2 separate regions of the Homo sapiens genome follow, and region 2 is linked to region 1. The links come from fine-mapping of genetic effects on gene expression. Tissue or cell type: sigmoid colon. Region 1 holds a variant in brackets; the other region holds the start of a gene. All regions are shown on one strand. Distances are between the middles of the regions.

What was found. PIP is the estimated chance that this variant, and not a neighbour inherited with it, causes the effect.
Region 2: PRMT7 starts here. The variant in region 1 is fine-mapped to the expression of PRMT7 in sigmoid colon (GTEx, PIP above 0.99). The same link has a PIP of 0.9 or more in esophagus muscle and tibial nerve.

The regions. Positions count from the first base shown.
Region 1 is chr16:68,389,045-68,391,724 of GRCh38, reverse strand. The region is part of intron 1 of SMPD3 (sphingomyelin phosphodiesterase 3); the gene reads left to right. Among named protein-coding and RNA genes, the nearest start is that of SMPD3, 58 kb to the left of the region's middle. RefSeq lists a silencer at 925-1,219 and an enhancer at 2,036-2,680. The variant G/A (reference allele first, on the strand shown) is at 1,529.
Region 2 is chr16:68,309,472-68,312,151 of GRCh38, reverse strand. PRMT7 (protein arginine methyltransferase 7) reads right to left here and starts at 1,133. Exons shown (of 19, transcript NM_019023.5): 1 at 1,053-1,133; 2 at 1-110. SLC7A6OS (solute carrier family 7 member 6 opposite strand) reads left to right here and starts at 1,206. Exons shown (of 5, transcript NM_032178.3): 1 at 1,206-1,417; 2 at 1,539-1,817. The coding sequence starts at 1,226. RefSeq lists an enhancer at 1,237-2,201.

The DNA of each region.
Region 1 (2,680 bases):
CCCAGATATGTGACCCTTCTCTCTTCCCACTGCCTTGGCCCTGCCATCTCCCTGCTTTGCCTACTGCACTGGCCTTCCTGCTTGTCTCCCCTCCTGCCCACCCCATGCTCCCTGTAGAATTATCTTTCCAAATGGATAACTGATCACTGAATACCTACAAAGAGTTGTCACCAATATCATCTCATCTAATTCTCCCAACAGCCTTGCAAAGTAGTAGAAACCCAATGCTCAGAGAGACTAAGTGAAGGCCCAGTGTTGCCCAGGGCCAGATTTGAACCTAGATTGGACTCTGAAGTGCACAGTCTTTCCAAGTGTGTCTCCCACCTTTGTAGTCCAAACTTCTGAAAGGATGTCAGGTCCACAATATACACAACAATTAATGACTGGCAGATGAATGGGCTTCATATGTAATCATATCTTCAACTTCATCTTCTTCAGTATCTACAGTCAAGTTGATCTCCCTTCTGAGTCCAACTAACAGAGATCCAGGCCCTCTGTTTTGCTGCTTCTTTGGGGGAAATGAGGAATTAACATTTTGTTAATCAAAATCAAAATGTGTACTTTCCTGTTAAAGACAACTCCCTCATGTGACTTCAATTATTTACTAGCAGAGTTACTTGCACTTTTAAGGGCAGAATTTTTTCAAGCATAAAATGACGAACTACAGCTTTGTCTTAATTCCCCATTAGCTTATGTCCTAATCTTTGTTCACTGAGGTGGGGGCACTGTCCACCTCACTGGAAGATCAAGTTGAACCAACCACTCACCACCCTGTAGTGTTACTTGGAGATCTAGGAGGTTTGAAGGGTAGCTCCTCTCACCAGCCATCCCTAGCAGCTACTCTGGGATACTTCTGCACCTCTCCCCCAGGGTCTCACCCAAATGCAGACAGGCTGCCTGACCATGCCTGTCCAACCATGGCACCCTCCTTGCCTTGGTGGTGTTGTCAGAGGTGTTTGAACCGGGCAACTCCATCTTGAATAGGTGCTGGGTAAAATGAGGCTGAGACGTGCTGGGCTGCATTCCCAGAAGGTTAGGAATTCTTATTCTTTGTTTGTTTATTTTGAGACAGGTCTCACTTTGTCACCCAAGCTGGAGTGCAGTGGCGCCATCACAGCTCACTGCAGCCTTGAACTCCTGGGCTCCAGCGATCTTCCCACTTCAGCAGCGCAAGTAGCTGGGACTACAGGCATGCACCACCACACTCAGCTAGTTTTTGTATATTTTTTAGAGACAGGGTTTCACCATGTTACCCAGGCTGGTTTCAAATTCCTGAGCTCAAGAGATCTGCCTGCCTAAGCCTCCAAAGTGCTGGGATTACAGGCGTCAGCCACCACATCCAGCCTAGGTTAGGCATTCTTAGTCACAGGATGAGATAGGAGGTCAGCACAAGATACAGGTCACAAAGACTCCGCTGATGAAAATAGGATGCAGTAAAGAAGCTAGCCAAAACCTGCCAAAAGCAAGATGGTGAACAAAACAACCCTGGTTGTCCTCACTGCTCATTATATGCTAATTATAATGCATT[G/A]GCATGCCAAAAGACACTCCCACCAGCGCCGTGACAGTTTACAAATGCCAGGGCAATGTTCCAGAAGTCACCCTTGGTTTTATATGGTCTAAAAAGGAGAGGAACCCTCAGTTTCAGGAATTGCCCACCCCCTTCCTGGAAAACGCATAAATAATCCACCCCTCGTTTAGCACACGATCAAGAAATAACCATAAAAATAGCCAACCAGCACCCTCTGGGCTGCTCTGTCAATGAGGTAGCCATCCTTCTGTTTCTTCTCTAATGAACTTGCTTTCACTTTACTGTGTGGACTCACCCTGAACTCTTTCCTGTGCAAGGTCCCAGAACCCTTTCTTGAGGTCTGGATCAGGACCCCTTTCCCATAACACTGGGGACTTAAAGGTAACCCCTTCACTAGGGTTCAGTCAAGATTTTTCCCCAAGGTGAGCAGCTGCTCTTCACTCTCACTCACCCCAAACTTCAACTGTAGCATGAGGCTGGGAGGCCCCAGGTCTGCATGAGGTCTGACACTGACAGTCAGATGGAAGGCTGTGTGACTTTGGGTACATTACTAAACCTCTAGGCTCCAGCCTCATCGAAGGTACCTGGCCCCAGTATCACCATGTGGGTAAATAAATCAACCTCCTAGGTGCCCTTTGCAAACATTATTTCTGGACCTGTGAAGTCAGTGTTATCCTCATTTTAAGAAGGCAGCAACTGAGGCTTGGAGAGAGGCCCCAGGGAACAGGTCCATCCATCTCCACAGCTGGTTCTGCTACAAAGGAAAGGTGGAGGTATCCAGGAAACTGACCAAGCTCAGTGCATCTAGGGACATCTCCCGTGGAGCTGCACATCCATCAGGGGTCACCCCAGGTACTGGTCTGTGGTCTTGGGGCCTGTGGGATTGAGGCCTCCTGGTGGACAGGCAGGCAGGCAGGAGCGTGCTTGGGACCACTGCTGGCTCCAGACACTGCCTTGCTGTGCTAGGTAAACGGCCCACTTTCCACACCCGCCCCCCAGGCCCTCCCTGCTCTGCTCCTACTGCCTATTTAAGCCAGAGGCCTGACTCGGCCCAGGCACAAGCCAGCTGCCAGAGCCAGGAGAGCAGCATTGCAGGCCCTGCTCAGCCGGGATGAAAGGTTCTTCTGTTTCACCATTTCCTACCGGTGCGTT
Region 2 (2,680 bases), 80 kb after region 1:
GTCCCAGCTACTCGGTAGGCCGAGGTGAGGATCGCTTGAGCCCAGGAGGTCAAGGCTGCAGTGCGCCTCGATCACACCACTGCACTCAGCCTAGGCAGCAGAGTGAGACTCTGTCTCGAAAAAATAAAATAACAAAATTTATTAAATACCTTCTATGTGCCAGGCACTATATTAGGGACTGGAGCCACCACCACAAGCTAGAGAAGACCCTTGCCCTCCAAGAGCTTAGACTCTAATGAGAGAGTAATACAAATTACAGACTACATGAATGCAAGAAATACACAGAGCGTTGTAGAAAGAGAAAACCAAGGTTACAGAAGGACTCTGAGGAAACTAGCATTTGAGATCTACAAGACAGACCGGGATAAAAGTTGGGGAAGAGTTTTTACAGGTCAGGAATCCTTACCCCAACTTTCCCAAGAAAAGGCCCTAAGGTAGAAAGAACTAGGTTGCATAAGCAAAATGTGCCAAAAGCCTGAGCGACCGAAGCACTTTTGCAGAAGCCCCCCGCTCCTCATCTCCTATCACATCTTCTGCTCAATCAAGCTGGGCCTTGTCGACTTCGGAAAGGCGTTTGGATTTTGTTCTAAAAGCACTGGGAGCCACTCAAGAGTTTTAAGCAGAAGCGTATCTACACTAGGCTTACGCTTTTACAGGACCACTCTGGTTGGCGTGTAGTGAATACACGACTCTCCAATTACTCAGAACAGTGAGTGGCAAAGACAACAGGTCTGGCAATCAGAGAACTCGTGGCCCAGTTAGGGGTGCGATGGTTGGAGCTACTGCGGTCTCTGTGGCTGAGGGGAGGCGCCAGGCACGAGTACTGCGACAGAGCCCCGCGAGTGGCAGGCACCCGGCTGCACTGCAGAGCCGGGGCCAGCCTAGAACCCCGCTCTCCTGCAGGCCCGGGTGTCCCGAGCTGCCCCACGCGGAGGAGTCCAAGTAGGCCCACGCTAGGCTCCTCTGCCGAAACCCTGGTGCCAAGGACACCATGCTCGCTGCACACAGAACCCCAAAGCGACCCCACCTTCCCAGCATACCCAGCGCCTCACCCGCCGCGGGAAACCCTCCGCTCGCCTCCGCTGCTACCACTTTTACCGCGGCCAGCACGCGGGGCGGGACCTCGCAGCGTCGAGGAGCGTGCTGGGGGGCGGGTCCTAAAGCAGAACTGGAAAGCTATCCCATCACACCCCGCGAGCTCCCACAGTGCTCAGCGGCAGCCACTATGGAGGCCGCCAGGACCGCTGTACTCCGGGTGAAGCGGAAGCGCAGTGCGGAGCCGGCGGAGGCTCTTGTGCTCGCTTGTAAACGCCTCCGGAGCGACGCGGTCGAGTCAGCGGCACAGAAGACGTCGGAGGGTTTGGAGAGAGCGGCGGAGAATAATGTCTTCCACTTGGTGGCCACTGTGTGCTCCCAGGTATTGGGCGTGGTGCAGCTGGTGTGGAGGGCATCTTCGGGTGCAGCCGGTACGAAACCCGATCCCTGACCCGCTCGCGAACTCCTGCTTACGCTGGCCTCCGTCCCCTGTTGCCCCCTAGGAGGAACCAGTCCAGCCTCTCCTGCGGGAAGTTCTGCGCCCGTCACGGGACAGCCAGCAGCGTGTCCGCCGTAATCTCCGCGCCTCGGCTCGGGAGGTCCGGCAGGAGGGCCGCTACCGGGTGCTTTCCAGCCGCCGATCCTTGGGGACCACCTCGAGCGGCCAGGAGTCCGAGTACACGCCGGGGAACCCAGAAGCCGCCGGGAACTCGGGCTTTCAGTTGTTAGACCTTGTCCACGAGGAGGGAGAACCTGAAGCCGCCTCTGCAGGCTCCTGCAAAGTGAGTATGCCCCTGAAGGTGGTCGCTGGGCTTCTCAGGATGGTAATGCAAGAAGACTGGGCCCAGTCGCAGCACAGTTTCATCTTAAGGGGATGGATGATCCATCCGGCGTGACGGCCTCATTTTACAGATTTGGTTGTTCATCCAACATGTGTTTACTACGTGCCTACGATATGCCAGGTATTTTTTTAGATTCTGTGGATACAGCAGTGAGGACCTAACATGCAGGTAGACAGAAACAGTAAACAAGTCTATTCAGTGTCAGATGATGATAAGGGATGTAAGGAGGCGGGGAGACAAAGCAGGAAGAGTGGTGCCACTTCAGTGAGAGTGTCACTGAGGAAATGACATTTGAGTGAAGACTTGCAGAAGGTGAATGGCAGGGTATTCCACATATCGAGAGGACTTCTAGGCAGAGAACCTGAAAGTAAAGAGGCCCTTAAGCCGTTTCTTTGCTCCTTGCAAGGTGCCTGGAGCCCGGTGAGCTAGAGGAGAGCAGTAAGGAATTTGAGGGGAGGATGCCTGCTAGGTACTTGCAAGGACATTGCCTTTCACCCTGACTGAGATGGGGATCACTGGAGCAAAATAGAGATAGAGCAGGTAGGAAAATTGATCAAAGAGAGGTTAAAGGAATAGTCCTGGATAGCATATCAAGTTTGAGGTAGATTTAGGTCTAGAATGCAAGTTTTCTCACATTTAATCCAGTGCTTTTCTTTATATTACATTTGCTAACTTCATTTGCAATCACTTCCAAAAAAAGTCTACTACATGCAGCAAAACTACAGAAATGGAAAATTCTCCTTGAGGCTGGGCACAGTAGCTGACGCCTAATCCTAGCACGTAGGGAGGCCCAGGCGGGAGGA